2 separate regions of the Homo sapiens genome follow, and region 2 is linked to region 1. A link means that fine-mapping ties the variant in region 1 to the expression of a gene that starts in the linked region. Tissue or cell type: esophagus muscle. Region 1 holds a variant in brackets; the other region holds the start of a gene. All regions are shown on one strand. Distances are between the middles of the regions.

Evidence for each region. PIP is the estimated chance that this variant, and not a neighbour inherited with it, causes the effect.
Region 2: PAQR5 starts here. The variant in region 1 is fine-mapped to the expression of PAQR5 in esophagus muscle (GTEx, PIP 0.91).

The regions. Positions count from the first base shown.
Region 1 is chr15:69,175,145-69,183,250 of GRCh38, forward strand. All of the region lies in intron 1 of GLCE (glucuronic acid epimerase), which reads left to right. Among named protein-coding and RNA genes, the nearest start is that of GLCE, 19 kb to the left of the region's middle. The variant TA/T (reference allele first, on the strand shown) is at 4,857.
Region 2 is chr15:69,295,582-69,303,687 of GRCh38, forward strand. It overlaps PAQR5 (progestin and adipoQ receptor family member 5), which reads left to right and starts at 3,331. Exons shown (of 9, transcript NM_017705.4): 1 at 3,331-3,475. It overlaps PAQR5-DT (PAQR5 divergent transcript), which reads right to left and starts at 3,182. Exons shown (of 3, transcript NR_184010.1): 1 at 2,897-3,182.

The DNA.
Region 1 (8,106 bases):
ACTTTTTTTCTTTAGCAATATGATCTTTAGTCTTCATCTGATGTATTGTAAAATTTACAAATAATAGTAATATACCCACTTTAAAAATGAAAAATAAGAAAAAGATTTTTCCATCATCCTCACATTCTTAATACCACCATCTCCTAAATTTTGGAGTCTCCCTTTTGTTGTTTTTCAATGCATATGCCAATGTCTTTGTCATTAGCCCTCAGAAGTGGCAAATAATTTTAAAATGTGTATTTCAAAACGAAATTTCTTTTTAGAAAATCAGGAGATACATTCTAGTAAATGTACTTACTGGACCTCAGTAGTGTACTTTTTACTTTGTTACATTCATATGAACACCAAAAAGTTTAATGAATAAAATAGAATATATTTTAACATGTTTAAGAAGTATGTCTGTGACAACATCTAATTGAGCTGTTGATGAAGTTAGTTTATAGTCATCAGCTTCATTTTCTATATTCTTCATTCCCTGTACAAAATACTTGTCATACCCAGTGGGTGTTCCAGACTTAGCATGTTTTAAAATCAAGGTAGCATTGTCATATTTTGTTTTGATTGGCTTTTGCTCAGGGGAAGTTTGGGTCCATATCAGAGATCTGTTTGCCTTCTTCACTGAAGCTAATGACTTTCTGTTATGTGATAGGCTTTCACTGCTTCTTCATGTGGGGGCATCTCTGCAATGTAAATTGCTATTTTCCAGTTATTTTACTTAAATTAAAACAAATAAAGTTTCTGAAGACACTCAGGAAATGTGTGAATTTACTGAGTATATAACCTTAGAACCCTTGAGCAGGAAAACATCAAATCACAAATAGGGAGGTGAGTATACTGGCTGGCAAATCTTACATTGTACTTTGTCATGTAACACTGTTCACTTACTCATTTTTAGAAGCTACATGTGCATTATATACTAATGGTATATCTCTCAAATAATTGAAATAATGAAAAATTGATAATTCAGAGCCACTTTTTATTTGGCATGGGATGTGATTGTTTTTGCATTACCACATATTAAAGTCTAAAAGGAGTTAAATTTTGTGATCTAGTAGTTTTCAGTGGAACCTTGTTTTTTTTTTTTTTTTTTTTTTTTGAGACAGGGTCTTGTTCTGTTGCCCAGGCTGGAGTGCAGTGGTGTGATTTCGGGCTCACTGCAACCTCCACCTCCTGGGTTCAAGCGCTTCTCCTGCCTCAGCCTCCCAAGTAGCTGGGACTGCAGGTGGGCAATACCACACCTGGCTAATTTTTGTATTTTTAGTAGAGACAGGGTTTCACCATGTTGGCCAGGCTGGTCTCAAACTCCTGACCTCAGATGATCTGCCCACCTCAGCCACCCAAAGTACTGGGATTACAGGCATGCGTCAGCCACCACCCCTGGCCCATTTTTGTTTTTTTTCCTCAAACATCTATATGGCACTGCAATATAGAATACAAATAAAAAGTAACATTTTTGTATAACTTTAAGTACATATTTATAACATTAACTTAGCATAAAGGGGATCAGTGACATTCAGGGTAGGCTCTTAAGTTGTCTTATCTTCACGACATTCTATTGCCACTTTATTCCTAGCATTTAACAGTGCCTCATACATAGCAGATTCCAAATGTATCTTAGTGAAATAAATGAATGAATGACTTAGGCCATTTTGATGTACTCAAGAATTTGAAATTGAATAACTGATAATGATTGTAGTTTCTCAATCTCTGCATTAAATTTCTATTTTGTTTTGATTGTACAATGTCCACCACAACTGGAAGAGTTGTTTTAGTTGGTTCTTGAGACTTAGAGTAGAATCAGGACACTCTCAAATTGAACTATGACTTTGAAAAAAGAAGTGGATAATGTTTCAAACCTGAATCAGGAACATTTCATATTTGCTTTTTTTTTTTTTTTGAGACAGTCTCTTTGTCACCTAGGCTGGAGTGCAATGGTGCAATCTCGGCTCTCTGCAACCTTTGCCTCCTGGGTTCAAGCGATTCTTGTGCCTCAGCCTTCCGAGTAGCTGGGATTATAGGCATGCGCCACCACACCCAGCTAATTTTTGTATTTTAGTAGAGACGGGGTTTCACCACGCCCAGCTAATTTTTGTATTTTTAGTAGAGACAGAGTTTTGCCATGTTACCAGGCTGGTCTCAAACTCCTGACTTCAGGTGATCCATCTGCCTTGGTCTCCCAAAGTGCTGAGATTACTGGTGTGAGCCACTGCACCCGGCCTTGCTTGTGTTCTTTATGATGAATATAAAAGAAGTTAAACAGGAGATATCACCATTTTTTGATAATTTTTAAAACAATAGTACAATATGTTATGAGTCCCTTAGTATAACAGCTTCACTGAAGTATAACTGGCATATAGTGAATTACACAATTTAGTAAGTTTTGATGTAGGTATATACCTGTGAAATCATTACCACATTCAAAATAGTGACCATACCCATCATCTCCAGAAGTTTCTTCATGCATGCCCCTTTATTATCTTTACTTCATGCCCCTTTATTATCTTTACCTCATGCCCCTTTATTATCTTTACTTCATGCCCCTTTATCATCTTTACTTCATGCCGCTTTATCATCTTTACTTCATGCCGCTTTATCATCTTTACTTCATGCCCCTCCACACTCCACCCTCTCAAAGTAACCATTGATCTACTTAATGTAACTACAGATTGATTGTTTTGTATTTTCTAGAGTTTTATATAAATGGAATTACATAGTATGTACTTTTCTTTATAGTCTGGCTTCTTTCACTCAAATAATTATTTTGAGATTCTTCTCTGTTGTTGCATGTATAAATAATTCATTCATTTTTTGTAGTAATATCCCATTATATGGGTATACCAAAATTTATCATTCATTTGCTGATGAGCATTTGGGTTATTTACAGTTTTATTTACAAATAAAGCTGTTACGAATATTAGTGTACGAGTCTTTATATGGACATATATTTTCATTTCTTTTGGTTAAATAGGATGACTAGGTCACAGGGTAGGTATCTGTTTTACCTTTTTTGGGAATAACATATTTATCATAAAGGGCTAATTTTCTTAATACACAAAGAGATCTTGTAGCTCGGTAAGAGTAAGATCAAAAATCCAACAGAAAAATGGGCAGAGGACAAAACCAGGTAGCTAATATCAAAAAATATACAAATGGCTTTAAGCATAAGAAAATATTTTTGGAAAGCTGAACAAAAAACTTAATATGTTGTTTAAAATTTAAACCTCTAGAGTCAGTCTGCTTGGGTTTGCATATTCTCTAACAATCAGTGTAATCAAGTTCCCTAACCTTCCTGTGTTTCAGTTTTCTCATCAGTAAAATGTGGCTAATAATAGCAATATCATCTACCTCAAGGGACTGTTATGAGTATTAGATAAGTTAATATATGTGGAGTTCTCAGAACAATATCTGACACACAGTAAGTGCTCTATGGAAGTTTATTTTTATTATTATTCAAATGCAAATTTAAACAGGAGAACATTTTTTGATTATCAGATTGACAAGGATTAAAAAGCTCAATAATACACAACACTGGCAAAGATATCTAGAATCACTGTTATATACTGTAGGCAGGAACACAAATTGTGCAATTTCTTTGGAGGACAAGTTGACTTTACATGTTAAAATGATAAATATTCATACTTTTTCATTCAATTTTAAATAATTTATCTTTGCTCTTTATAGTATTAATTATATTGTCAAAAAACATATATGACTCTTAGTAGGGGTCTGGTTAAATAAATGATGATATAGCCACACAATGGGATGTCATATAGTCATAAAAAAAGAAAAAAGGAGCACTTCTCCATAAGCTAATCTCTAAGACACATTATTGGGTTAAAAAAAAGTAAGTTGCAGAGCAGTGTTTATGGTATGCCGCTTATATTGCTGTAAATAAGTTGTGTATGTGTTGGTGTAAATACACATGCATATGCACACATTAATAAACATATTTTGCTTCAAAATGCATAGACTTTTCTAGAAGGATACACAAGAAAGGGAATAGTTCCTTCTGAAGAGGGACTAAAAGAAGGGACCAGGAGATTGGAAATCAGATCTCGGTATGACTGTGGTTGGGTTTGGTTGTGTACACTTTTATACTGCTTGAGTATTTATTTCTTGTCAAGAGAATATTACATTAAAAGAATTTGTAGTATGTAATTATAGATTCACAGGAAGTTGGAAAATTCGTGCAGAGAGGTACCATATACCCTTCATCCAATTTCAAACCCTGCTGGTAACATCTTATATAACCCTAGTGCACTATCAAAACCATGAAATTGATGTTGGACAATCCAAAGACTTTATTCAGATTTCACCAGTTTTACAGGCACTCATTGTATGTGTGTAATTGTTTGCAGTTTTATCATGTGTAGTTTTGACCACCACAGTCAAGATACAGAACTGTTTCATCACAACAGAAATCCCTGTGCCATCCCTATATAGTCATATCTCTCATCCTAACCACTGACAACGTAACTCCTGGCCTTAAAGAGCATATAGTTTTATAGGGGAGATAATAGAGATATACCAACAATTCAGTACAAAGAACAACACAAGTGGCTGTGTGCAGTGGCTCATGCCTGCAATCCCAGCACTTCAGGAAGCCAAGGCGGGTGGATCACTTGAGAGGTCAGGAGTTCAAGACCAGCCTGGCTAACATGGCGAAACCCTGTCTCTACTAAAAATACAAAAATTAGCTGGGCGTGGTGGTGCATGCCTGTAGTCCCAGCTACTCAGGAGGCTGAGGCACAAGAATTGCTTGAGCCTGGGAAGTGGAGGTTGCAGTGAGCTGTGAATGCGCCACTGCACTCCAGCCTGGACGACAGAGTGAGACTCTGTCTCAAAAACCAATACCA[TA/T]ACAAGTGCCAAAAGAACGTATTTATTGCTTTGAGAGTTATGAGTGATCAAATATTAAAAAAGGATCAGAAAAATCTTCATGGAAATAATTAGTATAGTTATAAGGAGAACTGGCTATAGTTCTGATTCTGCATTAAACACCACTAACTAACCAGATGTATAAAATAAGAAAGTTGAGAGAAAGATTTTTTTAGTGGTCCCTTTTAGTATAGTCTTAATACTGTGGATAATTTGGCATCATCCTTGAAGGAGGGCTATGATTTTATTCATTTATCAAATATTTGACCATTTTATGCCAGGCACTGCTCTAGGCTCTGTAAGTACCTCAGTGAACAAAACAGACAAAAATCCCTACCCCTACCCTGAGAAGACATACATTTTAGATGAGTGAATTAAAAAAAATGTAAGTTTACAGCATGTTAGAAGATAAGTAGTAAAGAGGAAAAATAAACCAGGGAAGGGGGAATAAAGTATGGGAGGAGTTACACTTCTCTAAAGGATGGCCAGGAAAATTCACTGATAAGGTGACTTTTAAATAACATGAAGACAGTCAGTGAAGGAGATATGACACAAATACAAATCATTCTAGGCCCAGGGAATAGCAAATGCCAAGTCTCTGAGGTTGGAGCATGCCTGCGGTATTTACATTTGAAGAAGCTTGTCATTGGAGTTGAGTAAAGGACTGGGTAATATAGGATGAAGTCAGAAAGGTAATGATGGCACTGGTGATGGGCTGGTTGTGCTGCCAGGTCAAGCAAGGTCTTATAGACCATTTTAAGGACTTCAGCTTTTAGACTAAGTGATACGTGGTATAGAAAGACATTGGATGAGTTGGAACAGAATAGTGACATGATTGGACTTTTAAAGAGTCAGTCTGGCAACTGTTGAGAGTAGGCTAAAGGAGAACAAGGGCAGAAGCAGTGAAACCACCTAGGAGACTGTTGCAGTAATTCAGGTGAGAGGTGATGGCTTGGACCAAAATGGTAGTAGTGGTGGTGGTGAGTAATTGACATTTTGAGGTCAACAGGATTTGGGGGACTGGGAAGCAGGGAGAGAAAAAAGAGGGAGGCACAGAGGTTAAGGGTGATACAAAGTTTGTGGTCTGAGCACCTAGAAGGCTAGTTACCCATTTGCTGTTATGGGTAAAACTATGATGGAAGATTTTGGAGGAGAGAAGTTGGATCTTGGACAAAGTAAATTTAAGATATATCTTAGGTATTCTAAGTGAGATGACTGCTAACTATCTGAGTCTAGAGTTCAAAGGAAAGGAATGGGCTAGAGGTTTAAGTTTGGGAATTATGTATAGATGCTATTTAAAGAAATCAGATCAGATGACTTCACTAAGGGAGTAAGCATAAAGAGGCGAAGGTCCAGGACAGAGATTTGGAGCACTACAACATTTAAAGTTTGGGAAATGAAGAACTAGCAAAGGAAACTTAGAAGGAGAAATCACTGAGGCAAGAGGAAAACCAGGAGAACATGGAATCTTGGAAGCCAATGAAGAAAGTGTTTTGAGAGGAGGGAGTAATGAACCCCTTGTCAGATGCTGCTCATAGTTCCAGTAAAGAGAACTGGTAATTGAATTGGTCATTCTAGTTTGCAATGTGGAATTCATTAGTGATTCTGACAAGAGCAGGTTTGATAGAGTGGTGGGGAAATAGACTCATTGGAATGGATTCAAGAGAAAGGGAAGTGAGAAATTGGAGACATGCAGAAAGAATCATTTTTCTGAGGAATTTTGCTGAAGAGGGAGGGAGAGAAATAGAATAGTAACTTAAGAGAGATGTTCAAAGAGTTTTTTTGTTTTTTGTTTTTGTTTTGACGTGTTTGTAGGAGGCTGAGAAAAAAATGGAAAATTTGATGGGATAGACGAAGAGGTAGTGGTGGTTAATGGGGATCTAGTGTGTAAGTAAAAAGGTTGGGTCTTGGGTAGAGCAGAAATAGTTCACGCTAGTAATGAAAGAGGAATCAGAATATGTGGGCACAGACGTAGTTAGGTAGATGTGGTTTGAGAGTTTGTAGAAGTTCTTTTATTGCTTCTAGTATTTTATTAGTAAAATAGGACACAGGGTCATAAGATAAAAGTGAGGATGAGAGGGAAGGTGATGGAAGATTGAGGAGCAAAAAGTTGAAATAGTTATGTAAGAGAGTGGCAGAATGGATGAATCAGGAAAATAAGGTATAATTGTCAGTCAGCATTAAGGAAACTCATTTGAGGCTCCTGGCCACGAATTTAAAGAGAAACCAATTTATCAGACATCGTGTATTTGTGTGTGTGTGTGTGTGTGTGTGTGTGTGAGAGAGAGAGAGAGAGAGTGCATGTCCATCCAGCCACATGCAGCTGTGTAGGTATCAACACAGAATAGGCAGAAAATTGCGCTGAAAGAGAGAGAGAGAGAGAGAGAGTCCATCCAGCCACATGCAGCTCTGTAGGTATCAACATAGAATAGGCAGAAAATTGCATTGGTAACAACTAGCCAAGCAAGATTGACATAGTCAGAAGGAAGACAAGTAGTTAAGCATGTATGCAAAGGAAGGAAGGAAGTAAATGATTGAATATGGATTTAATTTGGGTAAGAAGGGGATTGAGGACATGGGAAGGTAAAAGGAAGTGCAGAAGTCATCAGATTAGTGGACTACAGGTCTGTTGGGTTGGCAGATTTTTTGGAGTTAGGATATTAGAGGTAGTGAGCTGGTATCAGAGTGTGATACTTAAAAATGGTATTTCGAGGCTGGGCATCATGCCTCATGTGTGTAATCCTAGCACTTCGGGAGGCTGAGGCAGGTGGATCACTTGAGGTCAGGAGATTGAGACCAGCCTGGCCAACATGGTGAAACCCCGTCTCTACAAAAAAATACAAAAATTAGTCGGGTGTGGTGGTGCGTGCCTGTAGTCCCAGCTACTCAGGAGGCTGAGGTGGGAGGATCACTTGAGTCCAGTGAGCTGTGATTGCACCACTGCACTCCAGCCTGGGCGACAGGGTGAGACCCTGTCTCAGAACAAAACAAAACAAAAAATGGCATTTTGGAAGGGTTGCATTTATTAAAATTGAGAAGGTTTAAGGTTTGACTGTATGGGAATGAGTATAAAATAGGGTTGAGGGAAGGATCAGTGGAAGATCCTAGATCTACTGAAGGGCAGAACTTCCTTTCTGATAATAAGAAACTGACAAGCAAGAATTGGGAAAGGATTGTGTGGATGATGAGATTCCCAAGCATTATGAAAATAATGATGGTGTAATGAGCAAG
Region 2 (8,106 bases), 120 kb after region 1:
GCAGAAAAGAAAGCTCTGCAAGAAGTTCCCGTAAAGCATGTCCTTGCCCTTAGTGCCCATTTCCTCCTCTGTCAAATGAGGCAAATACTTCCAGCCCTGATGAGATAATGGCCTCATCAGCAGGGCAACTCTGACGGTGTGGGTGAGGCTGTTCTAGGTTTCGCGCTGCCAGGCAGCGCCTCTCTCCTAGCCTCCGTTTTCTCATCTGCCAAGTGGGGCAGTAAGCCCTGCCCTGGTGACTCCATTGCCAAGGAGAGGGGAGGCGTGAGCGGACTTATGGATTGGGGTAGAGTTGGGTGCCAGGGGGCTGAGAACACATGTGAGGGACCTGAATCTTGCCATATTAACTAAGGGCGATGGTTTCTGTAGTACCGTTTCTGCTATCCAACAAGGCCTTGTAAACAAATATAACGTCTGGGCCCACCCAGGAGGAGCTGGTGAGTGCCTGAGGAGTAGATGGCCAGTGGGGATGGGTGAAGAACACATAGAATAGTGACATCTGATATGGCGCCCCTTGAACACACAGGCAAAGGAAGAGATGGGGCATTTTGAGTCACATGGATTGGGGTAGGACTGTTTCCCCCCAAAAAGGCTTTTTGAGTTATGTTGTAAAGATGTCAGAGGGAGACTCACATTTAAGACTGAAGCTCTCCTTCCTTCACACCCTTGCCAGGACTCCCTCTGACCACCCCAATCCCTGCCCCCCTCCGTTTGTGGTCCCTCTGCCCATTGCCATGAGGAGAGTGTCCAATCCAATATCAGTCAGTTCCACAAATGTTTACTGAGCCCTTTGGAAAATAAAACACAACTCCAAATATTAAATTTACTTAGCACTCTGCAGTTTACAGAGCACTTCCAAATGCATTCTGTGGTCACTACAATAACCCTGAAAGGAAAAAAAGATGATTATCTCTCACTCCACAAAAAAGAAACTGAGGGTCAGAGAAGAGAGACAACTTGCTCAAGGCCATTTGATTGGAGGTTGCCTGACTCCTGGAGCTGCTCTTCCCCGTCTCCTTGCTGCCTTGCTGTCATGTCACCTGCTGTCTCACTGGGTCATTTGGGCGTGTGCCCCTCGCACGCCTGTATCTTCCCAACTGGTGTCAGCTCGAAACCCTCTGTGGTCTGCAGTGCTCAGCCTGGCTTTCCAGGTCTGGGCAGCTCCCTCCTTCCAGATCCTGCCTGTGATTCCAGCTCCTTTCCCTTGCTGTACAAAGTTCCCACCTCTGCACTTTGCCTCACTCTTTCTTCCTGCCCACTGGTACGTATCCCAGTCCTTCCCACACTTCAGGTCTCCCTCGGCTGCACAGGAGGCTCAAATCCAGCATAGATTCCTGAAGTCCTGGGTCCAAGTTCTAGCTCTGCTACTGACTTCTTGTGACTGTGTGACCTTGGGCAGGTCACTTTCCCTCTCTGGGCCTCCATTTCATCACTATGAAATAGGAGTGTTGAACACAATACTCTAAATGCATCTCCATGTGGTCTAAGTACCCCCCTCCCCGGCCCCTCCCTGCCCTTCCCCCTCCTCTGATCATCCTGTGTGCTCACCATCCACAATCCCCTCTCCTGGCTCCACATCATTCTCCAAAGGGTTCATGTTCAATCATTCAGTTAGACTTTAAACTCCCTAAGAGCAGAGGAGGGTGATTTTGGCCAAGATATGCAGATCGATTCATCAGTAATCCACTGACCACCTCCATTTAGGTTGGGAGCCTCTTTATCTTCCCTCTTTAGTTTCTTCAAGGTGCACACACAGATACCTACAGCAGGCAGGAATCCAGGTGGGGCACCAGGCATCTCTGCTCACCTTGGCTGCTGGTGGTGGGGTGCCTGCCTGTGCTGTGCATGCTGCAGCTTTGGCAGGGTGGCCAATCAGTCCAGTGCCAGCCTTTGCCTCCCAGAGAATGCTTCACACCCTATTCTTCCCCCAAACCCATCACTGGCCCAGACATCAAAAGCACACATCCCTGTGCTATTCCCCTTCAAAGAGCTTCATATCTAATATCTCACTGAGTCCCCCGACTAGCCTTGGAAAGGCAAAGCAGGGATTATTAATCTCCATTTTGTAGATGGTGAGGGTCTTGTCCAAGGCTACTCTGAATTCAGCATAGAGCTGGGACTGGGCTCCACTCTTGTGTCCAGTCATTCTTGTCAAACTCTGGTCTGTGGAATATACATGCCTGCCTCTGTGTAGGCCCCAGTCTCTTTCCCTTTAAGAACTTGGGTCTGAGAGGACAAGCGCATGTCGCACGCACACACACACGCACATGCATACACACCCTTACAAGATGCACAGCCACCAAAAAGCCTAATAAAGCAAGGTGCCCAAGACCACGGTTCAGGATCCGTAAAAATGGCCGGAGATAATTGACTGCAACCTATTCACTGCAAATGGGGCAACTTGGGCCCACAAAGGGCCAGAGACTTGACCCGAGTCACAGAGTAGACTAGAGCCCAGGTCTCTGGACTCCCAGTCCTGTGCTCTCTCCACTGTGTGTGCCCTCAGCAAACAAGGCAAGGCAGGGAGGAGCAGGAGCTCAGAGAGCCTGGGGCTGAAGGGTGGGAGGAAAGAGCCTGGTGGGGGACTTCGGTCCACAGGTGTGGATGTTCCAACCTTTCTCTGGCAGGGTCGGGGTGGGGGCACCAGGTAGCTGCAACCTGTTCCTTCAGCACCTGGGAGGAGACACAGAGTCTGGTTCCCTGAAGCCAAATGTTTCTTCTTTGTCCTCTGTGTCCCTTCATCTCTTATAGCTGTGTCCACTGAGTGGCAGAGGTCCAGGCCCAGCGCCTTCCAGTCTAGGAGCCTGTGACCTGGGACAGGATCCCTGGGGAAAGGGTGAGGGCTGGCAAAGGGCCCGCCACCCTGAGCACTCCAAGAGACAGGGGTGGAACTCACTTCAAGGATTCAGGGCGGCGAGGATCCTCTCCCACCGGCGAAGCGGACACCGCGGTGGGGCTGCGAGTACCCAGTTGTTGTTTTTTTCTCCTTCCCTGTTCTCCACCCCATGCACTTTTCCGAGGGGCAAGCTCCGCAGTTCTCCCATCAAGGAGGCTCTCCAGGCTCCCTGCCGGCCTTCGGCTCCTGGGGTGGAGGTGGGCGTGGGGTACATGGGCCCTAGGAGAATGGGGTGTGAGAGACTCCCCTGGGCTTATGGCTTTGGTGGCACCTCAGGCTGTGGAATGGGGTGGCGAGTCTTTGGAAGTCACAGAGCCCAGGGTCGGTGGCACGTGATGAGGCGCAGGCCTGGCTCAGGGGGTGGTGCCCACGGCCCTCGGCTCCTCCCCCGGGGCCGCCCCGCCCCGCGCGGGAGGGGACGGGCGGGGACCGGCATGGGTAGGCGCGGCGACCCGCAGGGCCAGGTGCAGGGCCCGCGAGTCCGGGGTCGCCGCAGCCCGGGAGGAGTGTCTGGTCTCCGGCCTGCCTGTGCTGTCCCCGCGCCCTGTCCACTGGACTCCCGAGACCCTTGGAACCCAGGTAACCCGGGGCGGGACTCCCCGCCGCGCGCCGCCTCCCCACCTCCCGGTCCACGCGCACCCGCCCTCCGCGGCAGCCCCAGCCGCCCTGCGCCCGTGGAGCCCGTTGAGCCTGGGTGGCCGCTCCGAGGGCGGGTCTGGGAAAGTTTGTGCCGGGGCGGCCCTGATCCGGCGGCGGCGCGGCTCGGCCACTTTCACCGCACGCGGGGCCGGTGTGAAGGTGGGGCGGCCGCCGCCGTGCAGAAGGCTCTCTGCTGCAATCGAGGGCGGTGAGGGGAGCTGTTGCCTTCTCGCACCTTTTCTCTCACTCTCCAGGGCGTTTGCGCCGCTTATCCTTCCTCCACCGCCCCCCTCCCGCCGCCCCCACTTTAATAAAACCCTTGGATTGGGGCTGCACAGTTGGCGATTTCTTTACACCTGTGCTTCCCGCCTCCTGAGCCCAGATGTGAGCCTGGGCTGAGCAGGACCGTGTGGGTGAGGGGCGGCCCACTGCCTGCGGGGGTCGTCCCGGCCCTGTTGAAGTGGGTGCCCAGCTACAGGGAGTTCCCCCTGCTCTGTCATTGGCCTCCCCCCGGCCACAGCCCCCAGCTGGGCATCTCCTGGCTCCCCTAGCACTTCCCAAGTCCTAGTCGGATGAGCCCAGGAGAGGGGGTGGACCCCGGCCCAGCAGAACAAGAACTCAGGAGCCCGGTAACTCTTATCCGTGAGCAGAACCGGCTTCCTCCCGCTTAGGTTGGGAGGAGGGCTCAGCTTAGTGGGAGTCGGGGGTGACAACTGCCCCTTCCCACGCAGAGCCATAGAGAAGAGATGGGGAGAGGTCAGGGGATCTGAGAAGAGCTAGCAGCCAAAAAGGGACACATCCCTGATTTCATTTGAACCTAACAAACCAATGGCGAGTAGATATTAACACATGGGCAGATGAGAAGACAAGGAGGCCCAACAAAGCTCAGCCATTTGCTGGAGAAACTGGTGGGCTTTTCTCCACCACTGAGTGGCGGGTTTCCCACCGCATCCTTCCAGAGCTGCATGGTCGCTTCTGCATTCTTGCAGTGCCCTTGACTCAGCAGAGGTTTGTTTCTTTTACCCCACTCCCCACCCCCCTAGGTTCTGCCTGTGAAAGAGGTTCAGGGGAGAGGGCACCTCCAAGCAGACACAAACTCCAGTCAGTAAGGTCCTCCAAGAGCCAGCCAGAGCCTTGCTAAGCTCCCAGAACTGCAGGAGGGCAGGGACCTGCTTTGTTCCCTGCAGGGACCTGCTTTGTTCCCTGCCGTAGCAATAGTACCTGGCACACGGAAGGTGCTCTGCGAGAATGGAATGATTAGCCTGCAACAGCAAAGCTTCTTTTCCAACTGCCTTATCTCTGCCCTTGGCAAGCAGAAAGGGCACTCTGAAAAGTTGGATCAGAAAGGTGTCCAGCCCCACCACTGAGATCCCTTGGCACCCTTACCCACGTGGGGCAACATTTTCCCCTTACACCAAGAGTACATCCTTAATCCCGTATGCTTTTCTTTCTTTCTCTTTCTTTCTTTCTTTCCTTCTTTCTTTCTTTCTTTCTTTCTTTCTTTCTTTCTTTCTTTCTTTCTTTCTTTCTTTCTTTTCTTTCTTTCTTTCATTCTTTCTCTTCCTTCCTCCCTCCCTCTCTCTCTCTCTTTCTTTCTTTCTTTCTTTCTTTCTTTCTTTCTTTCTTTCTTTCATTCTTTCTCTTCCTTCCTCCCTCCCTCTCTCTCTCTCTTTCTTTCTTTCTTTCCTTCTTTCCTTCCTTCCTTCCTTCCTTCCTTTAGTTCGTTTTCTTTCTTTCTTTCTTTCTTTCTTTCTTTCTTTCTTTCTTTCTTTCTTTCTTCCTTCCTTCCTTCCTTCCTTTCTCTCTCTCTCTCTCTCTCTCTCTTTCTTTCCTTCTTTCTTTCTTTCTTTCTTTCTTTCTTTCTTTCTTTCTTTCTTTCTTTCTTTCTTTCTTTCTTCTTTCTTTTTGACTGAGTCTTGCTCTATTACCCAGGCTAGAGTGCAAGGGCGAGATCTCAGCTAACTGCAACCTCCGCCTCCCGGGTTCAAGCAATTCTCTTGCCTCAGCCTCCCGAGTAGCTGGGATTACAGGCGCCTGCCACCAAACACAGCTAATTTTTGCATTTTTAGTAGAGACAGGGTTTCACCATGTTGGCCAGGTTGGTCTCGAACTGCTAACATCAGATGACCCACCCGGGTTGGCCTCCCAAAGTGCTGGGATTGCAGGCGTGAGCCACTGCACCCAGCCCCCATGTGCTTTTCCAGAGAGACAGAGGACTTTCACTTTACCCTTGTCCCGCCAAGGAGAGGCCGAGGCTGGTGGGTTCCATGCCAAGCTTGGCTCTACCCTAGACTGAGGCAGAGCAACTTTGTCCCTTTACGTAGAATTCTTATGCATCCCTCTGGGGGTAAGAATTGGAATTGGAATTATTTGGAAACTTTAATCTTCATTGTCTCCTCTCTCTCCTTACCACTCCATGGGGCAGCTATGTATTGAGGGAAGAGAAGGTGCTTTTCTGGGCCTCAATTTCCTCATCTGTAAAATGAGAGCAACAGACCCTGTGTGGTTTTAGGAGATAGTAAGTGGTTCCAAAGGACTCTGTGGGCTGCAAATCAAACTGTAAGAGCGGATTGTTATTTTCTCATGTGTATTAGCCTGGCCTCCCTGGTTGGCGGTAAGTCCTTTCTCAGCATCTTGGCATCCCTCATTCATCCTGAGTACACAGAAGGTTTACAAGACATGTTTTCAAAAATGATCCGTACAGGAAGAGAAAAATTGTGAATTCATAAGAAATGGGGGGAGATTTTTTTTTTTTTTTTTTTTTTTTTTTTTTTTTTTTTAGCACAGTGTTAGGAGTCAAGAATGGTGGCAGGAAACTGGGCAGGGCCATGCGTGAGTACAGGGACAGCTCTCAGGGGTGGTGGGGGTGGTAGGTTTGTGCATGGGCTTGAGCCCCAGTCTGTCTCTCAGCGGCTTCCTCCAGGAAACAAAACTGACCAACTCCGGGTTGGTCAGATATATATATTTGAGACAGGGTGTTGCTCTGTCTCAACAGAGCAGGCTGCAGTGCAGTAGCATGATCTCAGCTCACTGCAACCTCCGCCTCCCGGTCTCGAGCTATCTTCCTCACCTCAGCCTCCTTAGTAGCTGGGACTATAGGCATGCACCACCGTGCCCAGCTAATTTTTGTATTTTTTGTAGAGGTGGGGTCTCACTATGTTGCCCAGGCTGCTCTCGAACTCCTGAGTTCAAGCGATCTGTCTGCCTCTACCTCCCAAAGTGCTGGGATTACAGGTGTGATCCACCATGCCCAGCCAGAAATGGGGACTTTCAAATTCCTCTCCCTCCCTCCCCATGTAAGGGGAGGGGACACCCCACCATGCAGGGGAGGATCAGTAGGAGGGAAGGAAGGGTCTGAGAGCCCCTGTAGTTGGAGGTGGCCAGTGTCTTGTTCATCGAAGGCCAGGGCAAAGTGAGGGATGTAGAAGAGTCACTGGCAGTGCCCTGAGGATGCTGCCCACCTTGCTTTGAAGAAATCCACCCCTCAGTCAGGACTTTTGGGGCCCTGCCAGGAACCCTGTGTGACCCCTGGACTCCTCAGCAGACCCAGGTGTCTGCCTTTGACTTGAGGACAGGCCAGCACACCTGGGGTTAGTCAGTTCTGTTTCCTGGAGGAAGCCGCTGAGAGACTGACTGGGGCTCAAGCCCGTGAACAAACCCACCATCCCCACCACCCCTGAGAGCTGTCCCTGTACTCACGCATGGCCCTGCCCAGTTTCCTGCCACCATTCTTGACTCCTAACAAGGATGCAGCAGAGTAAGAGCTTTAGACCCAGAGTCTCTAAGCTGGACTAATCCTTAGCAGCCATGTCCCCCTGCTTCTTCTTTGCTTCATTTTCCATGGCTCACATCCCCTTCTGATGGCCTATAGATTTCACTCCTTAATCTTGTTTGCCATCTGTCCTCCCTGTTAGAATAGCAGCTCTGTGAGGGCAAAGCCTTTTGTCTCTCTCGTTCCATGGTCTCTCCCAAGAGATCAGAGTGTAGTAGGTGCTCAGTTAACACGTGCTGAGTAGATGAACACATCCAATGCACCATTTCTCAGTATACAGATGGGGAGACTGAGACCCAGAGGCGAGGAGTGACTCTTGGAGGCAGAGCTGGAGCTTTTCCTAATTAGACTCAAGTTAATTCAAATTTGGGTCTCTGTCTCCCACTTTGAATTACCTTGGTTGCTAGGGGTGCTTAAGAGGCCCTTGGCAAGAACCTTCAGGCCAGCTGCCTCCAGAGTTACCCAAAGGGGCAGCTCCCAGACTGAATGGACAGCCGCCACATGAGGCGATTGGTGAGTTCCAGGAAGGAGTCATCCCCACCAGACCTCCATCCTCAAAGAAAACCTCCCAGGGTTGCTCTCCCAAGGCAGCCAATTCCTCTGCTAGTGAGTTCTCTCTTGGTGAAAATAGTGCCCTCTTCAGGCAGCCTTTTAAAATTCCCCAGTGCAATTAAAAAAAAAAAAAGCACATCCAATCAATCAATCAATCAATCAGTCAGTCAATCAATTCTCCAGTGCACTGGAGAACTAAGGAAGTCCAAAGCCAGGCTCCAGGCAGCCGTGGGAGAAGGAGTGGCAT